Linked DNA regions of Homo sapiens. The protein of the gene in region 2 purifies or fractionates together with the protein of the main gene of each other region. This does not show direct contact. Each region holds a gene or a part of one and is shown on either strand. Other genes may lie near its edges.

What was found.
Region 1: the proteins of DRG1 (region 2) and NTMT1 purify together in Homo sapiens (affinity purification with mass spectrometry; 5 studies listed by BioGRID and IntAct, with this or other methods). This does not show direct contact.
Region 3: the proteins of DRG1 (region 2) and LARP1 purify together in Homo sapiens (affinity purification with mass spectrometry; 2 studies listed by BioGRID and IntAct, with this or other methods). This does not show direct contact.
Region 4: the proteins of DRG1 (region 2) and STAU1 purify together in Homo sapiens (affinity purification with mass spectrometry; 2 studies listed by BioGRID and IntAct, with this or other methods). This does not show direct contact.

What each region holds. Positions count from the first base shown.
Region 1 is NC_000009.12:129,621,846-129,629,182, reverse strand, and holds the start of NTMT1 (N-terminal Xaa-Pro-Lys N-methyltransferase 1), read right to left. Parts: upstream 3,021-7,337; 5' UTR 2,888-3,020; exon of another isoform or gene 468-2,887; intron 1-467. UniProt on the Homo sapiens protein: Distributive alpha-N-methyltransferase that methylates the N-terminus of target proteins containing the N-terminal motif [Ala/Gly/Pro/Ser]-Pro-Lys when the initiator Met is cleaved.
Region 2 is NC_000022.11:31,395,516-31,402,612, reverse strand, and holds the start of DRG1 (developmentally-regulated GTP-binding protein 1), read right to left. Parts: upstream 3,010-7,097; 5' UTR 2,930-3,009; coding exon 2,888-2,929; intron 1,994-2,887; coding exon 1,870-1,993; intron 1-1,869. UniProt on the Homo sapiens protein: Catalyzes the conversion of GTP to GDP through hydrolysis of the gamma-phosphate bond in GTP. Appears to have an intrinsic GTPase activity that is stimulated by ZC3H15/DFRP1 binding likely by increasing the affinity for the potassium ions.
Region 3 is NC_000005.10:154,750,504-154,758,379, reverse strand, and holds the start of LARP1 (la-related protein 1), read right to left. Parts: upstream 3,004-7,876; 5' UTR 2,623-3,003; coding exon 2,187-2,622; exon of another isoform or gene 1,858-2,186; intron 1,227-1,857; exon of another isoform or gene 1,090-1,226; intron 1-1,089. UniProt on the Homo sapiens protein: RNA-binding protein that regulates the translation of specific target mRNA species downstream of the mTORC1 complex, in function of growth signals and nutrient availability.
Region 4 is NC_000020.11:49,122,315-49,129,334, forward strand, and holds part of STAU1 (double-stranded RNA-binding protein Staufen homolog 1), read right to left. Parts: intron 2,292-7,020; coding exon of another isoform or gene 2,274-2,291; coding exon 2,061-2,273; intron 922-2,060; coding exon 778-921; intron 1-777. UniProt on the Homo sapiens protein: Binds double-stranded RNA (regardless of the sequence) and tubulin.

The DNA.
Region 1 (7,337 bases), on a different chromosome or scaffold from region 2:
AGTCACTCAAGAGAGGACGGCATTCAAAACTACTCTATAACCTATAACCTATAACCTGAGCCCTTTGGGAGGCTGAGGTGGGAAGACTGCTTGAGCCCAGGAGTTTGAGTCCAGCCTGGACAACAGAGCGAGACCCTGTCTCAAAAAACAAAAAACACTTGGTGGCTGGGAAAATTAAAGACAAAGGTTAAAAAACGAACTACTACTCTTCCACACCATGCTGGCACAACTCCCATTCAGACTGGACCATGGCGAGAGCAAGCCTGTCTCCCTCTCACCGCCCAACTTGGCAAACTGAAGGTTTTGTATTCAGTTCTCTCTCTCGCCTGGCCGGGGAGCTCCTGAGAGCAGTGGCAACATTTGAGATTTATCACCATGCTTCTCTTGCATCCCATGAAACACAAATATTCAACAGAAAGTTCACCTCTGATCAAATGAACAGAATAAATCTGGGGGCAAACACATACCAGGCTGGACTCCATCCGTCTCCTCTCCCAGCATGCAGCTTCCTGGGGGTAGAGACATTACCTTGTACACCATTAGCCCAGTGCCTGATACCAGGTGGGCATTGACTAACTGGTTGCCAAATAATGCAAGAATGGGCTTTGTGCAGCTATAGCCATTTTCCACTCTAAGAAAATCCTACAGACAAAAGTCCAACCATTCAGAACTGGTAAATACTGAAGGCCTGAAGGCTGCTACCGACAATATAATTCTGTGCTTTACCAAAAGCCTTGTAACATGATTCCTTTAAATGTCAGGGTCCCCTGAATAATCTAATTTACAAGAATTCCACTTACACGCAAATTCTGGGAACAAGCCAGGGGAGGCACATCCTGGCCGGGAAATAGCAAGCCTGACTTTGACATCTGCCCTAACAGCTGATTCATTAATAAACGGGATTCCTGGGGTCCTGGCTACATTTTGCCTCGTGGTGTCCAGATTGGAGTGGGGCAGGAGGAGGTCCCTAAGAGTCTGAGGGAACAGCAAGGTCAGTCAGCCAACAGCAGGTGGTCCTGCTACACTCTGCTCCAGAGCACAGATGCCGTATGTGGCTGAAGGGCCTGGGAGGGGGCCAGGAGCACACGGGCTTTGTGTGCACTCTAGGCTAGCTCAGAGAGGAAGACAAACCCCTCATGCCTGGTAAATGGCTGCTCAGCCAGTAAATGTGATCCTACATCCTTCACAGTCACCTGGCTGCTGCCTCCTCCTCCCCGCCAAGGTGTTCAGACCCAAGGTACTGCATCTCTTCTCCCACGACCCATGGAAGAAAACAGTGCTGAAACTGTCACCGGCAGACTTTTGCAGTCATCTCATCCTCCTCACGTAAGTCTCTACGGAAAAGCCTGCCTAAAAGTTACCTCCACCCTCTAGCAGCCTAGTGGACAGAGTCCATCCTCCCTGGATCTTTGTGGACAGCAGCAGGCCACATGCAAACGGCAGAGTGCTCTAAGAAAAAGAAGGAAGTGAGAAAGGGAGGGAAGAAGACAAAACAGGGGATACATTTAAAAACTAACAAAGGCTCTGATGGAGCCAGATGAACCAGATCTGAATCTTGGCTCTGCACACCTGCTGTGTAAGCACAGACAAGACATTAAACCTCACCATTCCTCAGTTCACCTATAAAATGGAACAGTAATACCGACTTTACAGAAAGGCTGTGATTAAAAGTGCATATGAAAAGCTTAAAGTGCTTTGCACAGTGCCGGGCACATATTCTCTCTTGAGCTTAGAAATCTCTGTCAAATGAGATTCTTGTCAACTCTGCCCACTATGAGGATCAAATGGGAAAACTGCCTTAGAATGCCACAGAAGCTGTATTGGACACACCTAGGGGACTGTTACTGGTATGCTGGGCGGCCAAGCCAGCAGACTCAAACAGCTCTGCAAATCAGCCAGAGTGGGGAGTGAGCTTCCTCTGCCTATAAGCACAGAACCCCCACCGAGATTTTTTAGATGCCATCCTTGTGATCCTAGGGCTTCCGGCCTCCACCAAAACGCTCCATGCATCCTTCCAACCCCCGCACAGTCCTCAGTTTACATAGAGAAAAACCAGCACACTAAAGGAAGTGACGTGTCTTTAAACATACAAACAGGAAGCCGAGAACAGAATTAAGGAGGGAATCCAGGCTCCTTATACCAGCCCTGGTTCCTCCCAGAGGCTCATCCCATCTCACTGGGCAATCATTCTACACACCACAACCACCGGTTACACTGTCCCTCCCCGCTGTCAGGGCCTCTGACACCAGTTGTGGCAATCACTTATAGTACAGAGGAGAAACCAAAGTCCAGAGGGAGAGATCACACAGTTGGTGCGCAGCAAAGTCTGGGCTTTTCGATATGGCAGCCTCCCTGCAGACAGGCTGACCTTGGCCGCAAGGGCTCTCGGGCTGTCTTTTTTGAGCTGCACCTGTGTCGGGCTGGCGCTCGGGTGGCACCCAAGGTTAAATACGACAGCAACTTCTGTGCAGCGGGCACTTAACTGTGCCAGGCTCTGAACTGGGCATTTTACCGATTTTACCGATTCCTCCCATCCATCCTCCAAGTGGGCGCTCTCCATATCCCTGTTTCTCGGAAGGGAAACAGGCTCAGAGAAAGGGATTTGCTGCGGTCTGGGGACCGGGGTGGGGGAGTGCCCTGCCTGGGCTTTGAGTGCCTTGACTTTCCTCCTGTACCCCGACCCATGGACTGCTCCGTAGTCCCTGCCCAGGTCCGGCCCGTAGACCTCTTGGGGACGCGCACGTGAGGCCTGTGCCGGCCCGCGCGCACGCGCCGGGTCACGTGACGAGCCGGGGACCCGGGACCTCAGGGCGCCGAAACAGTTAGGGGTCGCAGCCTCCCCTCTCCCAGCGGCTGCCTACCCTTCGCACCGCCTCGCGCTACTCACTCCGGGCGGGGGCTCCCGGGACCGAGAGAAGAAGATGGGGAAGAGGAAGGGAGGGCGGCGGCGGCGGAGACGCCACAAGCCAACCGCAGCTCCGCCAGACCACGACCAGACGCGACAGCTCGCGGCGCGCGCTGCCTTTGTCCGCCAACGTCACTTCCGGGCGTTTAGGGGCGGGCCCATGGCTGGCTCCACCCCCTCGCTCAGCTCGCCCCTCCCCCGCGCGGGCTCCGGATTTAACTTAACTTCTTTTGAAAAATAATTTAAATTTTTTTTTTTTTTTTTTTGAGATAGAATCTTGCTCTGTCAAGCAGGCTGGAGTGCAGTGGCGCGATCTCGGCTCACCGCAACCTCTGCCTCCCAGGTTCCAGCGATTCTCCTGCGTCAGCCTCCAGAGTACCTGGGACTACAGGCGTGAGCTACCACACCCAGCTAATTTTTGTATTTTTAGTAGAGACGGGTTTTCACCATGTTGGCCAGGCTGGTCTCGAACTCCTGACTTCAAGTGATCCGCCCGCCTCTGCCTTCCGAAGTGTTGGGATTATAGGCGTGAGCCACCGCACCTGGCCTAATTTGACTTCTTTAAAAAAAAAAAATTAGAGACGGGGTCTCACCCTGTTGCTCAGGCTGATCTTGAACTCCTGGCCTCAAGCGAGGCTTCCACCTCGGCCTTCCAGACTGCTGGGATTACATGCGTGAGCCACCGCGCCCAACACAGGTTACAGCTCAAAACTTGACTAAATTGACTTTTGGGAATCTAGAAGGACCTCCCGAACGGAAAAGAGCCGCAGCGTCGCCCTCTCCCCGTCCCCAGCACGTACAACAGTTCGTTTGGAGGCTGCAGGCTGGACTTCTAAAAACGAGTGTGTTGTGCGGGCTTTGAGTAAAAAGGGAAAAAAAAGCCATTGGTCCTCAAATCCACCCATCTCCATTAGCATCTTAAAATAATACCGACCCCCCAAAATAAATAAAATAAAAAGAAATACTCTCGGCAGTGCCATGGGATTCCCACTGAAATGAGCAAAACAAGCCCATGACGTTTCCATTCCAAAAGCGTGGCCCTTCCCTAGGCTCCTCCCATGCAAAGAAATTCTGGAGCTATCTCCGAGGCAGCGGTGATGGAAACGGGAGCTTGCAGGTGGGTAGAGCCTGTTAACATTTCCGAGCTTCAGTCTCCTGTCAGAAGAGGAAGTTGAGCAACGTAATAATTACTCAACTTCTGATGCTCTGAGAGGGTTAAACTTGTGGGACATTGCACGTCAGACCTTCAGCTCAGCACCTGCAGTGGGTTCTCAGGAAATGGAAGCTGTTATAATGACAATATCCATCTTAAGTTCATTTTTCCTATACTATTAATAATATCCTTGTGTTGGCAGGGCACGGTGGTGCACGACTCTAATCCCAGCATTTTGGGAGGCCAAGGCAGGCGGATCACCTGAGGTCAGGAATTTGAGACCAGCCTGGCCAACATGGCAAAACCCCGTCTCTACTAAAAATACAAAATTAGCCAGGGATGGTGGTGCATGCCTGTAGTCCCAGCTACTCTGAGGCTGAGGCAGGAGAATAGCCTGAACCTAGGAGGCAGAAGTTGCAATGAGCCTAGATCGCGCCATTGCTTTCCAGCCTGGGTGACAAGAACGAAACTCTGTCTCAAAAATAAAATAATAATAATACTATCCTGGTGTTCCTTCCTCTGGGCGACGCACACAGAAGGTGCTTAAAGTGTGTTTGCTCTAAATGTGTTGAAAGCTACGGTAGAAAGGGGATGCTAAAAAGCCCCTTCTGCATTGAGTCCGCAGGATGTGTGTATGTGCATCTTATTTGGCATACCCTCTAGACTATTCTAGGTCACAACTGCTACCCCTGGTCTGAGCCCCTCTCCCAAGCTTCATTTTCTGTGTCTTTAAGCAAAGGGATTGATCCTGGGCAATTTCAATCGGTGGGGGTGTCCGGAATCCTCCGCCAGGGGGCAGCTCTGATCCAAGCTCTCTGTATGCCTAAAAATCCAGCCCTGTCTTATTTCCTGTCAACAGAAGAGCAAGCCCCTTCCCCACAGCCACGCTCCAAGGCCTTCCCAGGACTGGCCGGCTCCCTGACCTCAAAGCCTCTGGCATCTCTGAATTCCCAAGCCTAGCACATAGTAGTTCCTTGATAAATATTTGCAGAGTGCAAGGGCTGGAGGGCTCCTTAGAAACCATCTAGTTAGGCCAGGCGCAGTGGCTCACGCCTGTAATCTCAGCACTTTGGGAGGCCGAGGCAGGTGGATCACAAGGGCAGGAGATCGAGACCATCCTGGCTAACACGGTGAAACCCCGTCTCTACTAAAAATACAAAAAAATTAGCCGGGCGTGGTGGTGGGCACCTGTAATCCCAGCTACTCGGGAGGCTGAGGCAGGAGAATGGGGTGAACCCAGGATGCGGAGCTTGCAGTGAGCTGAGATCGCGACTCCGTCTCCAAAAAAAAAAAAAAGAAAAGAAAAGAAAAAAAGAAACCGTCTAGTTAATCTGGTGTTTCGCAGCCATTAAAAAAGACACATACCCTTTAAATAAATACAAAAATATCTCCCTCCCCCACTCAATATTGTAGCTCTCCAGGAAAGTATGTCCCTCCATCCCTGGTGAGAAGCATTGACAGAAAATAGAATATATCTTTGGCGACGCGTTCTCTAGTGAGTCACTCTGTTATTTGAATTACAAAGTCGTTTCTTCATTTTCAAATTATGAAACTATGCCACGCCAGTGAAATACTCATGTAAATGACCTCTGTCTCCCACCCCAGCTTCACAATACTATGAGCTTCCTCTCGGCCCTCTCCCAGCCAAGACTCAGAGATAAGGCCCAGGGAGTCCTGAGAAAGAAGACACTTCTCCAGGATCACACAGCAAAACAGCAGACCATGGACTTGAAAGTGGGTCTGTTAATTTCTTTTCTTCCTTCCTTCCTTCCTTCCTTCTTTTTTTTTTTTTGAGATGGAATCTTGCTCTGTCGCCCAGGCTGGAGTGCAGTGGCGCGATCTCCGCTCACTGCAAGCTCCGCCTCCTGGGTTCACGCCATTCTCCTGCCTCAGCCTCCCGCGTAGCTGGGATTACAGGTACCCGTCACCACAACCAGCTAATTTTTTGTATTTTTAGTAGAGACAGGGTTTCACCGTGTTAGCCAGGATGGTCTCGATCTCCTGACCTCATGATCCACCCGCCTTGTCCTCTCAAAGTGCTGGGATTACAGGCGTGAGCCACCGTGCCCGGCTCTTTCTTTCTTTTTTTTTTTATGGAGATGGAGTCTCACTCTGTTGCCCAGGCTGGAGTGCAGTGGCGTGATCTCGGCTCACTGCAACCTCCGCCTCCCGGGTTCAAGCAATTCTCCTACCTCAGCCCCCCAAGTAGCTGGGACTACAGGCACACGCTGTCACGCCCGGCTAATTTTTTTGTATTTTAGTAGAGACGGGGTTTCACCATGTGGCCCAGGCTGATTGCGAACTCCTGAGCTCAGGCAATCCACCTGCCTCGGTCTCCCAAAGTGTTAGGATTACAGGTATGAGCCACTGGAACCTGGCCTCTTTTTTTTTTGTGAGACAGAGTCTCAAATGATCTGTGTAACGGATTAGAGTTGGAGATGTCAGCATGAGCTCATGTTTAGCTTAATATAAGTACAGATGGTTACCTATAGAAATATTTATAGATATGTGTGTGTTTCATAGTATACACACACATTTCTTTGTCAGCTGAGACTGCCTGAAAGAAATGACATCTCAATAGCAAGAAGCACACCTAGCACCCAGACCTTGGATTATTATTATTATTATTTTTGAGATGGAGTCTCGCTTTGTCACCCAGGCTGGAGTGCAGTGGCATGATCTCAGCTCACTGCAACCTCCGCCTCCCAGGGTCAAGCGATTCTCCTGTCTCAGCCTCCCAAGTAGCTGGGATTATAGGTGCACAACACCATGCATGGCAAATTTTGGTATTTTTTGTAGAGACGAGGTTTCACCATGTTGGCCAGGCTGGTATTGAACTTCTGACCTCAGGTGATCCGCCCGCCTCGGCCTCCCAAAGTGCTGGGATTACAGGCGTGAGACACCGTGCCCCGCAGGGTCTGTTCATTTCTAGGTCCATTGTATTCTGACTGCCTGGTCTTGGGGTGGAAGTTCTACTTCCAGAGCCACCCAGCCTAAGCCTCCCAGATCTGGAAAGGGTAGGCCTGGCTGCCCTGGTCAGAGTCCCAGTGCCCCAGGTGGCTGCGGCCAGGGCATCCAGGGCACAATAGCCCCACCCTTAGTCCCCAGGCCTCAGTGCCCACTGCTACTCAGATGCCCAGGGGTGAGGGGCGGATCACAATGACCCTGAAGCGGCCCAGAGGCAGCCGGGAGGGGCTGGGAGAGGCACCAGGCAGGGATGATGGGCTCTACAGCCTGCCTGTAGAGAGCTCTAAACTCACAGGACCTTCTAGGGCCCCA
Region 2 (7,097 bases):
CGCTTGAGCCCAGGAGGTTGAGGCTGCAGTGAGCTGTGATCACACCACTGTACTCCAGCCTGGGCAACAGAGCAAGACCCTGTCTCGAAAAAAAAAAAAAAAAAAAAGGTACAGCCCAAATATATGTATGAAAAATGATCCAAAAATAGAGTTGTTAGCTACTCTACCTATGGTGTAGCCCTGCTCTGCCTATGGAGGAGCTGCCCTTTTATAACTAAAATAAACAAATTAATTAATTAAAAAGAGTTTTGTTTTTGTTTTTTTGTCTTTCAAATTCTGTAAATTGTATGACTGACTGGGTTTTCTTTTTTTCTTTTTTCTTTTTACAATGGCTGCCAACAAGTTCAGAGTCAAATCTGTGGCCCTTCTCTACCAGGTGCACAGATCTTACGCCATTCCTTTTAGTCCTAAATCTTATCTCGCTTGGCTTCGACTTATTTTTCCTACGTTTTCCCTTTGCATCAATTTTTTTACTTATTTTTAATCTTGTTGATGATATAGGTTTACATTTCTGTAAGCCAATATAAATCTACTTTGGTTTTGTTTTTTCTTTTTTTTTCTTGAGACAGAGTCTAGCTCTGTCACCCAGGCTGGGGTACAGTGGCATGATCTCGGCTCACTGCAACTTCCACCTCCCAGGTTCAAGCGATTCTCCTGCCTCGGCCTCCTGAGTAGCTGGGATTACAGGTTCGTGCTACCATGCCCAGCTAATTTTTGTATTTTTAGCAGAGACGGGGTTTCACCATGTTGGTCAGGCTAGTCTCGAACTCCTGACCTGTGATCTGCCCACTTCGGCCTCCCGAAGTGCTGGGATTACAGGAGTGAGCCACCGCGCCTGGCCCTACTTTGGTTTTCTTAAGATGAGATCTCGCTCTATCACCCAGGATGGAGTGCAGTGGTGCCATCACAACTCACTGCAGCCTCAACCTCCTGGGTTCAAGCAGTCCTCCCAACTCAGCCTCCCAAGTAGCTGAGACCACAAACATGCACCACCATGCTAGGATACTTTTTTTTTTTTTTTTTTTTTTTGAGACAGAGTCTAGCTCTGTAGCCCAGGCTGGAGTGCAGTGGTACAATCTCACTCACTGCTACCTCTGCCTCCTGGGTCCCGATTCAAGCAATTCTCCTGCCTCAGCCTCTCAAATAGCTGGGATTACAGGCATGCGCCACCATGCCCAGCTAATTTTTGTATTTTTAGTAGAGATGGGGTTTCACCATGCTGGCCAAGCTGGTCTTGAACTCCTGATCTCGTGATCCACGCCTTGGCCTCCCAAAGTGCTAGGATTACAGGCGTGAGCCACCGCACCCAGCCTTTTTTTTTTTTTGGTACATCTTCTTTCATACCTATGGGGACCCCTCATTTCTAAGCCCATAGAGACAGGGCTTTGCTGGTTCCGAACTCCTGGCCTCAAGCAATCCTCCCGCCTCAGCCTCCCAAAGTGCTGGAATTACAAGGGTGAGCCACTGCACCCAGCGCATGTAAATCTATTTTGTATCAGTGCAGGATATAAATAAAACTACAGTACACTTAGACAATATTCATTTGCCTCTGAAACCGGCAGAATAAAAATAAACACAGTTCAAGAATTCATGCTTAGAAAATATAAATCTACTTTAGTAGAACATCTTTAGTTATTTTTCTGTTTTTAAAAAACTTTTTTTTTTTTTTGAGATGGGGGTCTATGTTGATCAGGCTGGTCTTGAACTCCTGGCCTCAAGTGATCCTCCTATCTCAGCCTCCCAGCATGCTAGGATTGCAGGCGTTGAGCCACTGCACTGGGCCATCTTTAGTTATTTTTAAACCACATGTATGTACTATTTTGACAAAAATTATACCTAAAAATATATATATTGAAGAAGAACACAAACCTTCTCCTGGACCTCCACCACCACCACCCTTTGGAGTAATGAGTTCTCGACGAAGCTTAGCAAGACGAGCCTTAAGCAGCCCTAAGTGGTGTGCTGTGGCCTTGTTCTTTTGAGTCCGAGCCATCTAAAAGGGAGGAATCACAGCCATAAATTAGAAGCAGTGAACGCTTCCCCCAGCTTTGAGAGGATAATTTTTTTCCCCAAGTCCTACTAATGTTAGCACACCCAGTTTACAGGCTTTAAAAGAGTAAAAGTCCATTATCTCCTCCATCCAGCTCATTTCCCTCACTACAAAGCAAAGCAAAGCCCAAAGAGGAAAGACGATTAAGGTCATTCCAATTAGTGCCCCCAGACTAGACTGAAACCCGTCTGCGGGTTCCTTTTCTACTATTTGCAGCTGTTTGGATCCATCTAACACTGGGACACCACTTTCCTAATTGTAAAGCGCTCTCAGGGCCGCACGCAATGGAATCACACACTATCCAGGCGGAATAAACTGCTCCCACACAGATGTCATTTTACTTCCAGATCCGATTACCGGGAGCAAATACTCTGAATCAGGGGGTCATTAGGGTAGACACTGGGAAAAGGGGGAATAAGGGGGACGCAGCGAAGGATGATGAGGAAAGATCCTGAACTATCTGACCAAGTCAGAGATGGAATAAGGGACAGGATTCAGTGTTTCTCAGAGCAAAACGGAAAGAAACAACATCAGAACAGGAGCCAAACACTGGGAGGGGGAACGGACTAAGGGCCTAAGGTGCAGGGGTGCGGAACGCGGGCCCGGGCAAAGGGGAGTCCGAGAGCGTAGACGCGGGACGAGGGGAAAGGGGGCCCTGACTGAGGAGAGTCGGGGACTCCTAATCGTGGCAGAGGGCAGTCGGAACACGGGCCTCGCTGAGAGAAGTCGCGGAATCTAGGCCCGGTCCTGACGCGGCTCAAAGGAGAACAGGAAGGAGCGACGCCACCAAAGAAGGAATGCTCAGACTAAGAGTGAACCGCCAGCTGCGTCCATTACCTCTGCTTCTATCTCCGCGATCTTAGCTAAGGTGCTGCTCATCGTGGCGAGTACCCTGTGGCCTCCACACTGTCTCCCTTCACACACCCGCGGGCAAACTGCCACCGCCACCAGGCGCTACTGCAGCACGCAGGCGCGGTACTTCGAATTACCGCGAGAGAGTTCCGCGTAGGGGTCACCGCGAGTCGCAAAGCGTGGGGCTGTCTCCTCCCCCTCACCCGACCCCGCCCCGTCCCGCGAGCCAGTGCGGTGTCATAGAGCCCGCGGGAGCGGAGGCCAGAGAGGCCACCCCTGTCTGGGCCTCCCCGAGCGCGCCGAGGGTCGCGCGCAGCTCGGCCCCGCCCAGCGGGACCCGCTCCCAGCTGCTCTGCATGGTACTGAACGCTTCAGTGCTGGAGACCCCAGGGCGTGGTGCAAAGCCGACTCATGCTCCGCACCCCTGTTCCTCGCCAGCATCTGCGGGTCCTGGGTCCCTTTTTCACAGCTGGGGTGACACCCCGACGCCCTCCATGGTCTTGGAGGGAGTAGAGACCCATCTTCAGCCTGCCTCACCCCCTTGGATAAAGAAAATGCCCCCTTTCTATCATTCAAAATTATTTTTAGGTCGGTTTTGTTTACTCCGAACCCCGAGTAGAGCACATGGGGAGCCCAAAATAAGTGCATACTTGAATGGATAATTCCCAGAGAACTGCTGCTTGCAACATAGTTTGTAATACCAAAAAATTGAAATCTATATTAACACCCATCAGTAGGAAAATGGATAAATGAATAATGCCTCTATCCTGTTTTTGAAATATGATTACAGCCGTTAAAACGTAGATCTGTGGTCTGACTGGCTACCCAGGACATGTTAAATGGGAAAACAACTAGCAGAAGGGCACCTACGTAGTGATACCATTTATGTTATTTTTAAAATTAAATGTACATTTATATAGGTGTACGTGTATGAACGTGCAGTTTAAAGGCCTAAACAGAAAAATACATCAGAAGCTCTTAACTGTGGGATGGGATGCAAAGAAAAGGCCTTTCACATTTTATTCCACAGAATTTTGAAGTTAAATTTTTACAAGACGAATGTATCCATGTATTACTTGTGTAATAATAAAATTTAAAATTTCAAAAGACTCCTCTTCCCCAAGTGTCATGAGGAAGCCAGGACGTCCAGGAACTATGTGGTGGTTTTGAAAGCGGTTTGCCTCAGGATCAATGGGTTGTTTTGATAGATTGATTATTCCAGCGGGAGTCGACAGGCCAGGCTTAACCCACAGTCGACAGGCCAGGCTTAACCCACAGGGCTGGCCTCCACCCAGCCCTGGGAGGGAAGTTTAATTTAGTTAAATTTGTAAACAAGAACTATTCTAACTTCCCAGAGACAAAAAAGGGAGGTTTTCTTGTGCATAAAGAGGGAGAAACAGAAGGGAAAGCTTTTACAGAAGGTCCCCAAAGGGCCAAAGAGAGTTTCTTCTTTCTTTTCTTTAACCTCAGCCTTTTTCATAAATAAATTAAGGGATGATGAGGTAATTAGATCCCACACTATTAGCAATGGAGGAGGGAAGATGAGGAGGTCCAGCTGGAATGGGACATGATCAAAGATCAATCTTAAAAGACAGATAAAATCAAATCAGCAGGCCTATCCTAACTTGAAGTACTTAAGGAATTAATTGGCTGACAATATCAAGGGCATCACTGCTCTGTGAGTAGGTGCTCCTTAGCAAATCTATTATATGAGGCCTGCAGATAAGTTAACACTTACTGCTCAAAGACACCCTGGGACCCACCTTGGGGCCCTGAACTGTCAATAGGCACCAAAGAGTAATACTCATTTTCCCGAGTCCTGGGTGGCCATCCTGTTCATGCAATCGTTATTTACAGAGCTCCAACTGCTGCCTGGCACTGTGACAACACTGGGGACAGAGTAGAGAGTGAATCAGATATGTTCCTGCACATAACAAGTATTTAGGCCGGGCGCGGTGGCTCATGCCTGTAATCCCAGCACTTTGGGAGGCCGAGGTGGGTGGCAGATCACGAGGTCAGGAGATCGAGACCATCCTGGCTAATACGGTGAAACCCGGTGTCTACTAAAAATACAAAAAATTAGCCAGGCATGATGGCATGCACCTGTAGTCCCAGCTACTCAGGAAGCTGAGGCAGGAAAATCCCTTGAACCCGGGAGGCGGAGGTTGCAGTGAACCAAGAATGTGCCACTGCACTCCAGCCTGGCGACAGAGGGAGACTCAGTCTCAAAAAAAAAAAGTATCCAGGCTGGGGCTGGGCACAGTGGCTCACCCCTGTAATCCCAGCACTTTGGGAGGCCGAGGCAGGTGGATCACCTGAGGTCAGGAGTTCGAGACCAGCCTGGCCAGCATGGTGAAACCCCGTCTCTATTAAAAATACTAAAATTAGCCGGGCGTGGTGGCGGGCGCCTGTAATCCCAGCTACTCAGGAGGCTGAGCAGGAGAATCGCTTGAACCCGGGAGGCAGAGGTTGTAGTGAGCCGAGATCATGCCATTGCACTACAGCCTGGAGCCAGGACGACAAGAGCGAGACTCTATCTCAAGGAAGAAAAAAAAAGAAGTATCCAGGCTGGGAGGCCAAGGCCAGGACCTTAGGTTCAGCTCCTAAGAGCCATAGCTACCCCATGTCTGTTAAGTACCAACTGCAGCAAGGAGAGCCCATTTGGTCATATGAATAAAGCACTAGCACCTTGGTATTAAATGTGTAAAAAATAAATAGGCCGGGGACAGTGGCTCACAGTTTAATCCCAGTGCTTTCAGAGGTTGAGGTGGGAGGATCGCTTGAGGCCAGGAGTTCAAGACCAGCCTGGGCATTGAAGCCAGGAGTTCAAGACCTGCCTGGGCAACATAGGGAGACGCCCCATCTCTACAAAAAAAAAAAAATTAGCCGGTCTGCAAAAAATTTAAAAATTAGCCAGACGTGGTAGCACATACCTGTAGTCTGAGCTATGTGTGAGGCTGAGGCAGGAGGATCACTTGAGCCCAGGAGGTCAAGGCCACAGTAAGCCATGATCAGATCACTGCACTCCAGCTTGGGTAACAGCAAGACCCTGTCTCAAAAAAAAAAAAAAAAATTATTCAGGCTTGTTGGCCCGCACCTGTAGTCCTAGCTACTGGGAAGGCTCAGGCAGGAGGTTCACTGGAGCCCAGGACTTTGACGTTACACTGGGCTATGATCCCACCACTGCACTCCAGCCTGGGTGAAAGAGCGAGAAACTACCTCTAAAATAAATAATAAATAAGTAAAACAAAGATTGACAGAAAAGCTTCATCTCTTGATGAGACACTCCCACCATTCCAGAACAATTATATGTGGTCAAATACATAGGCTTTCTCGGGCACTGTTTTACTTCTCTTGACTCCCATTAAACCATGATCCCTGGCCAGGTTTGGTGGCTCACGCCTGGCTCACTCCCAGCACTTTGGGAGGCCAAGGCAGAAGGATCGCTTAAGCCCAGGAGTTTGGGACCAGCCTGGGTAACACAGCAATACCTCATCTCTACGAAAATAAAAAAAATTAGCTGGGTACAGGGGGCAACATGACGAAACCCCGTCTCTACAAAAAATCAGTGTGGTGGTATAATCTCAGCTACTCGGGAGGCTGAGGTGGGCCCAAGAAGACGAGGCTGCAGTAAGCTGTGATCATGCCACTGCACTTCAGCCTGGGTGACAGAGTGGGACCCTGTCTCAAAAAAACAAAACAGACAAAGAAGAAAAAAACAAAACAAAAAAGACATGATCCCATGAGGAAGGAGTGATACTATATCTATCTCCAGCACCAGCAGATGTGCAGCTACAACAACCTCTTGAAAGATATTTTAAAAATGGAAATTTTAAGAGAGAAATTGTTTTTTTTCAAGAAGCAGAAAAGATGTTTGAAGTGATGTATATCCCAGTTACTCTGATTTTATGACACATTGTATACATGTATCAAAATACCACATGTAGCCCCCAAATATGTACAACTATTAAATATCAACAAAAATTTTAGAATAAAATAACATAAAGAGAAAGAAAAAGTATTTAATTTTTTTTCTAAGTAGTCTGTATATGTTATTATAGACACCTTAATAATTGAGTCAGGTTGATGGAAGAAGTAACAGGATAATGATACAAGAAAAATCCATGTTATTTATTTATTTATTTATTATGAGACAGGGTCTTACTGTGTCACCCAGACTGGAGTGCAGTGGTGC
Region 3 (7,876 bases), on a different chromosome or scaffold from region 2:
TCTTGCCTTAAGATTCCAAAAAACAATAACAGAGCAAATCTACCCTTACTCAGAATTTTGCTTTGGGCACTTAAAGCAAGTCAGCTTCTCCACTCAGAGGAAAAGGTGAGATGCCAGCCAAGCTGTCTTCTTCCCACGATCAATAACCCCAGTGACGCACACTATCAAGGGCTCCTGGACTTACACAAAATGCCAGCTCAGGCACCCAATACCACCTGATGTCACGGTTGATTTAAAACCCACAAGGTAGGTTCACCATTAGCCAAGCCAGGATGAGTAGCCCCATTTAAAAGGAGTGCTCTCTCCCGGGGATGATTATACCCTTTTGAGTTTAAAGAGGGGAGAAGGACCAAAGAGTGTTTTAAAGTTGTTTTCCTTCACTCTGTGGGTGGATAGGAGGGACTGAAAGAAAACGGAGGTTTCAGCACTGTCTTTTGCATAAAAGGGCTCTGGAAGGGAAAGGGGGGAAGGGGAGGAGGGGGGAAGGGGAGGAAGGGGGAAGGGGAGGAGGGGGGAAGGGGAGCAGGGGGGAAGGGGAGCAGGGGGGAAGGGGAGCAGGGGGGAAGGGGAGCAGGGGGGAAGGGGAGCAGGGGGGAAGGAAGAGAACACAGTATGAAGGACTGTTAGTAAACCCCAAATGTCCCCTCCTCCAAATGAAGCAACCTGAAAAGAAATAAAAATTGCAACATGCTGTTTTCAGGACTGGCTATTCTGGCTTCCCTAGGACTAGCAGTGCTTCTACTCCTTTGACGGTGAAGACATTAAGCTCCCCCTTTATTTTTGATGGTTTAAACCAGTTAGCCTCAACCAGCTACGGCAGGTGAGTTTTTTAAAAGCACCAGGGCTACGACCAGAGGCCATCATTCCAACTGCAAGACAATTTTAAAACCGACCCACCACAAACGGACCCAAAACCAAAGAATGGAGACCCGCCCTATACGCCGGCCGAGAGAGGAGAGTGGGCGCGCCCCCCCCACCCAAGCCGACGATCTATTCTCGGCAAAGGCAATGCAAGAGCAGACTCCATATTCTGCACCGCCTCTCCCCCCACGCTGACACGGCTCTGCTGGGATTTCCTGCACCCCTTACCTCCCCCCGGAAAGGGGCACGGTCCAAAAGGACCAAAACGCGGAGGAGGGAGAGGGAGGACTCGCGGAGCGCCGGTCGGCAGTCACATGCCGCTCCCCGCGCGGGGAGGCACCACGTTGTCCCGGCTGCAGAGGAATGCTGGGAAGGGGGGACGCGCACACACCCGCGCCGCGCACACGCACACTCGGGCCGCGCCGCGGGCCCGCACCCTCCTGCCACCCCCAGCGCCGCGGCCCGCACCGAACGCCGAGGCCGAGCGGCCCGCGGGCCGCCGGCGCGGCGCATGGCGCCCAACTGTCACCCGCCCGCCCAGGCCGGCCACTCCCTCCCCCGCCGCCACACGCCCCTCAAGTCGCCGCAGGCCCCTCACCCGCCTCACATTTTCCGCCAACCTCCTAACTGGCTCCCCCAGCACACTCGCCATCGGGCTCCTTCTTAAGGCGGAAGGTGCCCGGGATCGGGGAGGGAAACCACCGAATTCGATGACACGATGGGTTTCTTCTCCCCACAACTGACCCCTCAACCCGTCTCCAAATGGCGATTCTAAAGCCCAATTTCATCTCCCCGAGAACAAAACTTGTTAACTTTTAATCCCCGCATCCGTGCGGCCAGCATGTACTCCGCGCCGGGCACTGGGTTGCCCGTGACATATGCTCATTAAACATTTACAACATGGGGACGCTCGCAACGCTACCAAAACGGGGAGCGCCGGGCGGGGTGGGAAGAGGGGCTTCCAGAGGAAGGTTCAAACCAGAAACCGTCTCTTACACCAGCATGCGGTGGGGATCGTTTCACTGAAACCAGCGCCCACCCTCTGCCGACGAGGTAGGCCCGAACCACACCGTTGCCCACTAACCGCTGCGGCCCAGGCGGTGGCCGTAGCCTCCCGGAGGCCGGGCCCTCGGGCAGGGGCAGGTCCCTGAGTGTACGGTGGGGGGGAGGGCGCGGCGACCAGGATCAACCAGGAGGCAATTTTAAAAAGTCCCGAGTCACCATGACCGGTAGCAGACCCCGGGGCCCTGGAGGTGCTGGGGGAGGGGACTCCCATGTCCCCGGAAGAGGCCCCCGGACCCAGGAGGGCAAGGAGGGAGACCCACCTGGGGGGGACTGTCCGTTCACGGTGGTCAGGACCGGCGGCAATGCGTTCTTAGTCCACGGGTTCACCTTGGGCGGGGGGGCTTCCACGAAGTCCCGGCGCCCCGCGCCCGCGGCTCCGGCAGCTCCTCCGCCAGCGCCTGGCTCGCCGCCGCCCTCCTCCCCGTCGCTGATGGCCGGGCCTTCGGCGCCGGGCAGCTGCAGCGGCCGCGGGCTCTCGCGCTCCTGCTGCCCGGTGCCCTCCTTGTGCGGCTTGGCGCAGGGCGGCCGGGGTCTCCGAGCGCTGCCGTCCGGCTCCCCCCCGCGGACGTCGTTTGGCCCGGGCTCGCCCTTGCCCTCGGGCGCCGGCGGCGGCTTCTTCCTCACCAGCCCCCCGTGCTCTTCGGCCTGCAAGAGCGTGGCGCCCCCAGGCAGCAGCGGCTCCACCTGAGTGGCCATCTGCGCGCCCGCCCCCCCGGAGAAGCCGGGCGCGCCCGAGGCTGCCTCCCCCGCCTCGAACTTGGCTAGCAGAGCGCCCGCGACGCCTTCCTCCGGGGCGCTGGGCCCCAGTCCCTGCAGAGAAGGGTCGGGGTTCACGCGAGGTGCGGCCCCCTCCCAGTTAGATGCAGCCGCCGTAAATCCGAGGCCCACTAGCGGGGCGGGGGGGGAGGAAGGCCCCCCACTCTGCAGTCCAGGCCTCCTAGGCGTGCGTCCCCCCCCGCCCGTTCCTCGCAAGACGCCCCCACCCCGAGCCCGGCAGGCTTCTAGTCCCGTCCCTCCCTCCCCCCCGCCCCCGGGGCGGCCCGGGCTTCCCGGCTCGGGGGCTGCAGCAATATGGACGGACGGGGGAGAGGCGCGGCGAGCCAAGCAGACCACGCGATCCGCGGCAGGCGGCGGGCGGGCGCGCGCCTCACGACGCGGCGGGCGAGGGGAGGGGACGGCGCAGCGGGGGCGCGCCGCTGGCCGGGCCCTGGGCGACGGGCGGGCAGGAGGCGGCGGGACGGCGCGCGCACGGCTACGCGGTCCTGCCCCTCGCCCCGCCCCTCGTCTCCGATTCCTCAGAGCACCTCCCGGGCTGGGGGTAGGGACGCTCAGACCGGACGGGGGCGAGCACGTGCCTGATGCAATTCGGGAGTTGTCGGTGGGGGCGCTGACGGGGATAGGAGAGAAGGCTGGGCGAGGAGGGGAGGTATCTTAAAGGGCCAGCGCGTGAGAGCGGCCTCAGGTGGAGCACATGGGACCCGGCCACGCGGCCTGCCGGGCCTGCTCGTGCTCTTTAGGCTGGGTGTCAGATTCAGGGGAAGGAGCCATTAGTGTCATTCCTGACTTCTAGGAGGCCGAAGGGAGGACCCTCATCCGCCCCGAGGACGCGCCAACGCCGCCCCCTCCCCTGTGCCCGGCGGGCCTGGCCCCTTCGGTCCCCGCCCGGGTGACCTTGGTTGGGTGAGCCGTCCGCACCTCAGTGGGTTGTGCTCCGCGCCTCGCCGCCGCTGGGCCTGGCCTCGACACTACCCGGAGATGGGTTCAACTCCGGGCCTGGAAAGCGAGTCTTTAGCCCTTGCGGGCAGCCGGCGCCTAGGAAGTGGGAACGGAATTACTAAAGCCCTCACCCAGGCCAGGCCCTTCTCCCCGCCGCGAAACCTTGTATTTATGGGCAGGAAATGTCTTTTCTTTCAAGTGGATGTCGTTTTTTTTCTAAAGAATTGCTTTGGGCGGAGTTGAACCGTCCCTGGATTGGGACTTCTGAGATCTGAGATTTTATCCTGGCCCTGCCCCCTTACCATCTCTGCAGCAGTGACTTCCAGCTTCGTGGGCCTCAGTTTCTCTATTGTAAAATGAAGGAGCAGTGTATGACAGCAGTTTCAAACTTCAGTGTACATTCGATTCAATACTTACTGACCTCGTACTGTGGGGGCCTTGCAGGGTTCTAGGAAACGGGTTTGGTATAAACTAGGCTAACAAAGTCCCTATCCTCATGGAATTTATTCTAAGGTGGGGAAAGAGACAATAAACAAGTAATAAATTATTGTCTAGTATCTATGAAGACAATAGTTAAACTGTGGTAATCAGTTAGACTAGATGGGCTACTTTTGTTTGGGTGATAAGGGAAGACTTCTTTGAACGCAGATGCCAAAGTATTAGGAATCAGGCTCGGTCTGGGACTGGACCCAGAAATCTGCGTGTCTAGCAAGATCCCTTTGGTGCTTATGACTTCACTTGGAGAAGTCCTGGCTTCTGACTGGCTGTGATCCCACGTGCTCACATAACATAACAGCCTGGAATGTTGGCCATCTCCAAAACAAGAATTAGAGCACACGACCTGCTGGATCTAGGAGAAGACTGAATGAAAAGCCTCTTGGAACTGCCCCAGCCAGCAAAGCTGAGCTGTAGGATTGTTGTAACCAGTATGGGGGAGAAGTACTGGTAGGGATAGCCAGGTAATGCCATGTCTACTTCCAACTCTTGGGTTATTCAGCCTCCAAGCCTTGGCCAGCTAGCCGCACTTCCCTGGACCCCTCTCCTGGTGGAAAAATGGGGGTAAATAATGCCTGACTTGCTTCCACCCTCTGAGCTCATGTGAAGGTCAAGTGAGACAATGTTAGTCAAGGTGCTGTGTAAATTTTATAGACAAGCCAGTACGTCAAAAGAGCTACCAAGGAAGGTAATGTTACTCAATGAATTAAACCAGGAATCTACTAAGTTCATTACATGTACTCTTAATCAGAAGGTAAATTATTGCACATTGCCACTGAAATGCACTATTTATTTATTTGAAGAGATGAGGTCTGTCACCCAGGCTGGAGTGCAGTCATTGTGATCATGGCTCACTGCAGCTTCAAACTCCTGGGCTCAAGCCATCCTCCTACCTCAGCCTTCGAAGTAGCTAGGACCACTGGCACGTGCCACCATGCACAGCTTTATTTTTACAAATTTATTGATAAGTAATCCCTGAAGAGATTATTCACTCTAGACCCTCTCTAAACTTTGTTAATAGGGGACATAATTATTATTGTTAGTTGTTCTTTTTGTAATTGGAGGTAGAGAAGTACCCTCCCCTGACCCCTGAGAACTCGTGAGGGTACGAGGGCACTGTGTGGACAAGAAACTCGTTCATGCTACTCAGCAGTCAGAAACAGGGTTGAACAAGCATGGCCAGGCCCTGCTGTGTAGAGGGTGGAGGGGTACTGAGATCTGCCTACCCTGGGCCTGCTCTGCCCCAGAGAGAGACAAACTAGGGCCAGAGAAAGTAAGAGACCTGTGTGAAACAACATCTTTTTTTTTTTGACTCTTACTCTGTCGCCCAGGCTGGAGTGCAGTGGTGGGATCTCAGCTCACTGCAACCTCCGCCTCCCGGGTTCAAGCAATTCTTCTGCCTCAGCCTCCTGAGTAGCTGGAATTACAGGCGCCCGCCACCATGCCCAGCTAATTTTTGTATTTTTAGTAGTGATGGGGTTTCACCATAATGGCCAGGCTAGTCTCAAACTCCTGACCTCAGGTGATCTGCCCACCTCAGCTTCCCAAAGTGCTGGGATTACAAGTGTTAGCCACCATGCCCGGCCGAGACAACATCTTAGGCTTAGAAGCTGTTAGAACTGGAAAAAGGAATCATAATGATTACTCATTCTCCTTGTTTTGCAGATGAAGAAACCAAAGTTCAGAAAAGTGAAGTCCAAGGCCGGGCACAGTGGCTCAAACCTGTAATCCCGGCACTTTGGGAGGCTGAGGCAGGCAGATCACCTGAGGTCATGAGTTCAAGACCAGCCTGGCCAACATGGCGAAACACTGTCTGTACTAAAAATACAAAAATTAGCTGGGCATGGTGGCGCACACCTGTAATCCAAGCTACTCAGGAGGCTGAGGCATGAAAATTGCTTGAACCCAGGTGGCGGAGGTTGCAGTAAGCCGAGATCACCCCACTGCACTCCATCCTAGGTGACAGAGCAAAACTCCATCTCAAAAAAAGAAAAGAAAAGAAAAAGGAAGAAAAAGAAAAGTAAAGTTCCTTATCCAAAGTCACACAGCAGAGCCAGACAGAGCTAGGTCTCATACCTGAATCTCTTTATCCTAAATCCAGTAGTTTTTTCTACATTAAAATAATGAAACTGGGGCTGGGCATAGTGACTCACACCTGTAATCCTAACACTTTGAAAGGCCAAAGCAGGAGGATCACTTGAACCTAGGAGTTAGAGATCAGCCTGGACAACACAGTGAGACCCTGTCTCTATTTTTTTTAAGTTTTAATAAAAAAATGATGGAATTGGGATTTGAATTCAGGTTTTTTTGATTCCTAACCAACTATGGTATTTTATATGCATATATTTCTAAATACAGTCATCCTCCCTTATCCCAGTGCATGCCTGAAACCCCAAATAGTACCAAACTCTATATATACTATGTTTTTCCTATATATACTTACCTATAATAAAGTTTAATATATAAATTAGGCACAGTAAGAGATAAACAACAATAAATAATAAAATAGAACAATTATAACCATAGACAGTAATAAAATTTATGTGACTGTGCTCTTTCTCTCTCAAAACATCTTATTGTATGTAATATTTTCTGACCACAGTTGGCCACAGGTAACTGAAACATCAGGAAGCAAAACCACAGATAAGAGGGGACTAGTAATGACCAAATAGTCAGTAATGACCATTTAGTAATGACCAAATAGTCAGGAGTAATGACCAAATAGTCAGGAGTAGCTACTTTTATTGGGTAACTAGTGTACGCTAGGTTCTATGGGAAATACTTGATATTCATTATCTCATTTAATCTTCATAATAACCCAGTGGGATAGTTATTATTTCCTTAAATGTCTACTGAGCCCCTACTATGTGCCAGGCACTACAGGCTAGGTCCTGGAATGGTTATTGTCTTCAAATTACAAAGGAAGGCAATTGAAATTCAGAAAAGAAAGTAAGGTGGGTACTCAGCATCATAGGCAGCAGCTAACTATCAGAGTGGGGTTTTTCAGGGTGTTCTATATCGCCAGGCCTTATTCTTACTCACTGCACCACTCTGTACAGCCTACTTCTCTTCCCTCCATTGCCATATCCATAAGTATTTATGGAGAATCCCTCAAATACTTAGGCCTCAGGAAGATACCAAACAAGTTGAATCCTATCTTTCTAAAGGGTAAACTCTAATTAGAGGAACCAAATAATTGAGCAATATTTAACCTGTGGCCAAAAAAAAAGAGAGGCCAAAAAAAGAGACAAAATATGCTTTAGGCAGAAAGTGACAAGGATCAGGCTAACTTGTGCCTAGAGTTTAAACACATCATGTGCTTAAACACTAGGCCAGGTGCTATGGCTCACACCTGTAATCCCGGCACTTTGGGAGGCCAAGGTGGGAGAATTGCTTGAGCCCGGGAATTTGAGACCCACCTGGGCAACACAGTGAGACCCTGTCTCTACAAATAAATAAATAAATAAATTAGCCAGGTGTGGTGGCACATTCCTGTAGTCCCAGCTACTCAGGAGGCTGAGGTGGAAGGATTGCTTGAGCCTGGGAGGTGGAGGCTGCAGTGAGCTGTGATTGCATCACTGCACCCTAGCCTGGGCAACAAAGTGAGACGAGACCTTGTCTCAAAAAATAAAACTCACCAAATTAATAAAATGGGTCCAAATACCTATTTGGGCTGGGCATGGTGGCTCACACCTGTAATCCCAACACTTTGGGAGGCCGAGGCATGTGGACCTCTTGA
Region 4 (7,020 bases), on a different chromosome or scaffold from region 2:
AGAGGAACAGATCTCTTGATACTACTTACAAAATTTACCTTTGGTAAAGAGCAATGTCATAAACCTTCAAGGAGATGTAATGAAGAAAAACTTCTCCCAGCACCCACCACCCCAGGACTCTTTCTTCCAAATTTCAGTGCAACACACCCACATTCCCACCAGTGCACCCAGCAGTAGTGCTGGTGTGCAGACATTACATTCATTTTTTTAAGCATTAAGATAAACAACTTAATCTTTGATATGTAGCCTTTACAGATTTCTGTGGTATGTTTAAGCTATCAAATTATTGCAAGCCACAAGGTCTTAATAAGGATCACAGTTGGCTGGGCGAGGTGGCTCACGCCTGTAATCCCAGCACTTTGGGAGGCTGAGGTGGGAGGATCACAAGGTCAGGAGATCAAAACCATCCTGGCCAACATGGCGAAACTCCGTCTCTGCTAAAAATACAAAAAATTAGCTGGGCATGGTGGCACGTGCCTGTAATCCCAGCTACTCGGGAGGCTGAGGCAGGAGAATCGCTTCAATCAGGGAGTCGGAGGTTGTAGTGAGCTGAGACAGCACCACTGCACTCCAGCCTGGGCGACAGAGTGAGACTCCATCTCAAAAATAAATAAATAAATAAATAAATAAATAAATAAATAAGGATCACAGTCGCTGGCAGAACATGGCCCACAGGATCCAGCCTCCTCAGGAAGGTGTCCAGACCTTGAACCGCCATCAGCCCCCAAGGCTGGACGTGGTCAGAGGAAGGGGCGCCCATCATCCATGCGGACCCACCTGCATCACAAACTCCCTGCGGCGCGGGAGGCCTCGCTCTGTGAGGAGCGTGTACTCTGGCTCCTTCTCCTTTTTTGCCTGCTGGATCTGGGCCAGTCGGCTAATCGGATTGATCCCCTGGCCATATTCTGGGCTTGTCTGTGGCTGAGGAACAAACAAGGCAGAAACTCTGTAATGTTATTCACCGCATGAACTTGGTCAACTCAGAGATCAGGATATGAGAGGAGATAAGAGATTTTGGGTTGACCTAATGGCTCAGAATTCGATTTTTTTTAATTTAACATTTTAACAATGAAAAGATGCTTTATTTTTTTTATGATTGTTCTAGGTGATTTTAAGGTCTTAGCAAACCAACATCAACATTTCACTATAACGAAGCGTCACTATGACTGCGACGGCTGTTTTTTAACATATTTCAACATATGACAGTAAATGGGCAGAAAAAACATAAAACACTATTCCTACAACTCCCCAAAAGTCTGAGCTATGATGGGTTCCCAATTTTCTTGAAAAGAACTCAAAATCCAGGAACCACTTTTTTAAAAAAGCTCAAGCTGATGCCACATGGCAAGAAGAACCTCAGAATCCCAGTTACTTCCTTGAGGCCACCTTTTGTGCCAAGGAACCCTCACTCTGCTGATCAGAAGTGACTTCCAGGCTATATTAAGCAAAAAAGGGAAACAAAAGGTATACATAGTATGCTTTTATGTAAGAAAAATTTGGATCTTGATACAGCATGAAACTACATATACTGAAAATCACAAAGTTCCCCATGGAATTATGTCCCCTTTCTGGGGTTGGGGAAGGGGTCAATATAATGCTTTGATAGATCCATTAGTGTGGCTCAAAAATCCAAAAGAAAAGGCACACAGCAAAATGTCTCACTCCTACCCTCCCACTATGGGCCTCCTGCCTGGCACAAATCTCCTCCACCTTCAGAACAGCAACATGGTCACTGAGACACAGGCACTGTTATTTCACCACGCGCCCCACAGACCGGCATGGCGTTCCTGCCCAATACCCCACTGTGATCGCCAGGGCTGTGATGAGCGCCCTCCTGCACAGATGTGTGTGCCCGTCTGCGGGTACCTCTACTGAACTGACACAATGTCCTTATCTTACCTAACAGGTGGCTCTTGCAGCACCTCTAAGGGGTCTGGCAGGCCTGGGGTGTGGCACGTTGGTCTCATCCCCTTTCACCTTGGGGACAGCGACCAGCCTTCTAAACCCCCCACCCATCTATAAGTAATGAAAACACCTTCTGTGTTCAGAAAAGTTCTCACCTTGACTATGGGTTTTGTTTTCTTTTTGATTCTAGGCTTTACTCGTTCAACTGCAGGCAGGGGCGGTAACTTCTTCAGCTCCTCAAGAACAGCTATGGCGGCATTTTTCTTTGAAATCTTCTTGCTTTTCCCTTCACCTTCCCCCACAAACTCCCCAACCGAAACCTTGGTCACAAAGTTCTTCATGTGGGGTGGGCCACTCTCCCGGGCCACCTGTTTCAGAGGGAAAGACTGAGTGAAAGCGGACAGACACTTATTAAAAGCTCCAAGGCACACTGGCTGGCACACTTCACACAGACACAGGGAAGGGGAACCAAGGACAAGACCTACTAAATGAAAGGAAGCGGGGATCATTTCAAATGCTTTCTCGCCTTTCTTCTTACTTCTCAAACTGGTTTATGCTCTTGAGTCTGGTGAGTCCCAAACAGTCAGGCATGAAATAGGGAGACCTTTTTACTCCCATGCCCCTGGCTCACAGGCTGTCCTGAGTTTAGTGTGGTCCACTGCAACTGGCAAAAAGGAAGCTAGCCCAGCAAAGTCCAGAAATAAATGCAGTACAAATGCTCAAGTTTAGTATCTGCTCTGAGCCTCCAGCCAGGACTAGGCCTACTAAATACTGGTTGCTATGTGGCCACAAAAGAGAACGAGACAAATCTCTTAAGCACTGATAAAGAGGGATTCCCCGCACACATTAAGTAAAAAAAAAAAAAAAAAAAACCCACAAAAGAGTATATGGTATGGTAGCTTTAGTTTAAGAAAAATAGGATTTTATACAAATATCTACACATATATAAACAGACACACATTTATAAGCTCATTTTTGCAAAAAAAAAAAAAAAAAAAAAAAAAACGAAGGATAAAAAAAATCAATGGGCTGGACATGGTGGCTCACACCTGTAATCCCAGCAATTTGGGAGACCAAAGCGGGTGGATCACTTGAGGTCAGGAGTTCAAGACCAGCCTGGCCAACATGGTGAAACCCCCATCTCTACTAAAAATACAAAAATTAGCTAGGGGTGGTGGTGCACACCTGTAATCCCAGCTACTTGGGAGGCTGAGGCACAAAAACCCCTTGAACCTGAGAGACGGAGGTTGCAGTGATCCAAGATCACAAAACTGCACTCCAGCCTAAGCGATAGAGTAAGACCCTGTCTCAAAGGAAAAAAAAAAAAAAAAAAAAGCAAGCAATGGGCCAGGCGCGGTGGCTCACGCCTGTAATCCCAGCACTTTGGGAGGCCGAGGCAGGTGGATCACGAGGTCAGGAGATCGAGACCATCCTGGCTAACATGGTGAAACCCCGTCTCTACTAAAAATACAAAAAAAATTAGCCGGGCGTGGTGGCAGGCGCCTGTAGTCCCAGCTACTCGGGAGGCTGAAGCAGGAGAATGGCGTGAACCTGGGAGGCGGAGCTTGCAGTGAGCTGAGATTGCGCCACTCCAGCCTGGGTGACAGAGTGGGACTCCGTCTCAAAAAGCAAGCAATGAAATTAGTTACCTACAACAGGTGTGAGGGATTAGGGTAGACAGACGGGATGAGACGGGAATGATAGTTTTGACTTCTGGAAGCATTTACTGTTTTACATATTAAAGAAATAAAACTAAGTCAACAAAGATGGGGAAAGAATCTAAAATTAAACATGAACAGAAAGTTAGCTGCATATTAAAGTGATTACAATCTCCAAATGGACCAAAGACCTACACAGAGGCGCTAACATGCACAACTCTCAGAAGCAAAAACAGGCGAGTCTTCATGACTTTGGGTTTGGCAATTGGTTTTTAAGATATGAAACTAAAAGCACAATCAACAAGAGGGAAAAAAAAAAGTCACACTTAATCAAACTTTAAAACTTTTGTGTATCATGGACATTATCAAGAAAGTGATTACAATAACACAGATAGAAAATCAGGCTGGGCAGGGTGGCTCATGCCTGTAATCCCAACGCTCTGGGAGGCCAGGGTGGGAGGATCACTTGAGCTCAGAAGTTCAAGACCAGCCTGGCCAATACAGCAAGACCTTGACTCTACAAAAATAAAAACAAAATTAGCCAGGTGTGGTAGTGTGCCCCTGTATGTAGTCCTAGCTATGTGGGAGGCTAAAACAGGAGGATCACTTAAGCCCAGGAGATCAAGGCTACAGGGAGCTATGATCACACAACTGCACCCCAGCCTGGGCAACAGAGCAAAACCTCGTCTCAAAAAGCAAAAAAAAAAAAACAAAAAAAAAACAAAAAAACTTAAAAATCTAACCGATATTAGCCAAGACACTCAAAAAGAAAAATAGAAGACTTACACTACCAGATTTTAAAACTTCCTATAAAGTCACAACAACTAGGATATGGTTTTGTGTAAGGATAAATAGATCAACAGAACAGCACGAAAAAGACCTGCACATATAAGGTCACTCGATTTTTGGCAAACACACCAAAACAAATTAAAAATCTCTTAAAAAAATAGTACCAGAGCAACTAACTAGGTATCTGCATGGAGCGGGGTGGGGGGAAGAAAAAAAAATCAAACCATGATCTCTAACTCATACCACAACAAAAATTAGACCTAGGATCACTTAAATGTGATCTAAACTAAAATTACAAAGACTTTATAACAGGAGAAAGCCTCAAGACTGTAAGGCTGGCAAAGAGTTGAACACAAAAGATATCCACCATAAAGAAAAAAGAAATTCCTCAAAATTAAAAACCACTGGCCGGGCGCGGTGGCTCACGCCTGTAATCCCAGCACTTTGGGAGGCCGAGGTGGGCAGATCACGAGGTCAGGAGTTCGAGATCAGCCTGGCCAACATAGTGAAACCCCGTCTCTACTAAAAATATAAAAAATTAGCTGGGCGTGGTGGCGGGCACCTGTAATCCCAGCTACTTAGGAGGCTGAGACAGGAGAATTGCTTGAACCCAGGAGACGGAGGTTGCAGTGAGCTGAGATGGCACCACTGCACTCCAGCCTGGACAACAAGAGCGAAACACCATCTCAAAAATAAATAAATGAATAAAATAAAAAATAAACTGCTCATCAAAAGACATTTAAAAAGTAAAAAAGGGGGCCAGGTGCAGTGGCTCACGCCTGTAATACCAACACTGTGGTAGGCCGAGGCGGGTGGATCACCTGAGGTCAGGAGTTTGAGACCAGCTTGGCCAACAGGGTGAAACCCTGTCTCTACTAAAAATACAAAAATTAGCTGAGTGTGGTGACACATGACTGTAATCCCAGTTACTTAAGAGGCTAACACAGGAGAAATGCTTGAACCCCAGAGGCGGAGGTTGCAGTGAGCTGAGATCGCGCCATTGCATTCCAGCCCGGATGACAGAGCAAGACTTTGTCTAAAAAACAAAAAAAACTAAAAAAGGGGCCAGGCACATTGGCTCACTCTTGTAATCCCAGCACTTTGAGAAGGCCAAGGCGGGTGGATGGCTTCAGTCCAGGAGTTTGAGACCAGCCTGGGCAACATGGCAAAACCCCGTCTCTACAAAAAAAATACAAAAATTGGCTGGGCTCGGTGGCTCACGCCTGTAATCCCAGCACTTTGGGAGGCCGAGGCAGGCGGATCACCTGAGGCCAGGAGTTTGAGACCAGCCTGACCAACATGGAGAAACCCCATCTCTACTAAAAATACAAAATTACCTGGGCGTGGTAGCGCATGCCCATAATCCCAGCTACTCGGGAGGCTGAGGCAGGAGAATCGCTTGAACCCAGGAGGCAGAGGTTGCGGTAAGCTGAGATCACGCCATTGCACTCCAGCCTGGGCAACAAGAGCGAAACTCTGTCTCAGAGGAAAAAAAAAAAATACAAAAATTAGCCCAGTGTGTGGTGGCGTGTGCCTGTAGCCCCAGCTACTTGGGAGGCTGAGACAGCAGGATCACTTGAGCTCAGGAGGTCGAGGTTGCAGTGAGGTGAGATCATGCCACTGCACTACAGCCCGGGTACCAAGTGAGTTCTTTTCTCTAAAATCAAATAAAATAAACTTGTTATTTCAAAATATACATATTTCCTAGCTCTATCTCCTAACCGAGAGCCATGGCTCTCCAGCAGGAACAAGCATGCTAGCACCCTGTCCTGTCTCTACACACCACTCCCAATTAGAAGGAACCGGATCTTCTTGGAGGAATGGCCAAGACCATTTCTATTAGAAATTTATGTTTCCACTGGGGCTAAAGCTAGAGCAGGGGAAGTTCAAAGTGAGGCTAAAACATTTTGTTGTATCAGAAAGCATGGAAGTTCTCAAAATGTGAAGAGGGGAGGTGCAAAGGTTATTTAATAAAGGACTGTCTCAGCCAGGCATGGTGGCTCAAGCCTGTAATCCCAGCCTGGGCGACAAGAGCAAAACTCTGTCTCAAAAAATAAAGGACTGTCTCTTCAACAAACAGTGCAGGCACAATTAGACATCCAAATCCAAAAAAAAAAAAAAAAAAAAGACAAAAACATCCCTTATGTCACAGTATATATGAAAACTAACTCGAAATGAATTATAAACCTAAATGTAAGAGCTAAAACTAAAATTTCTAAGGAAAATGACTTTAGGTTAGCCAAATGTATCTCAGCATACACAAAAATTATTAACTATAAAAAATTTAACAAACTACACCTCACCAAAATTCAATACTTCTGCTTTTTGAAAGTCACTTAAAATCAAACGACAAGCCACAGACTTAAGAGAAAATATCTGCAAAATACTTATCTGAGAAAAAACTTGAATTCAGAATATATATAGAACCTCCAAAACTCAATAATAAAAAGACACTCAAAAAAACTGGCAAGATATAAACCTATATTTCATCAAAGAAAATAGTAAAATAAAAACACGAAAAGAAGCTCAGTATTGCTAGTCTTCATGGAGATATATAAATTAAAACCACAACAAGATACTACTGACTACCTGCTAGAATGACTTTAAAAAAAAATTTTTTTTTTTTTTTTTTTTTTTTTGAGACGGAGTCTCACTCTGTCACCCAGGG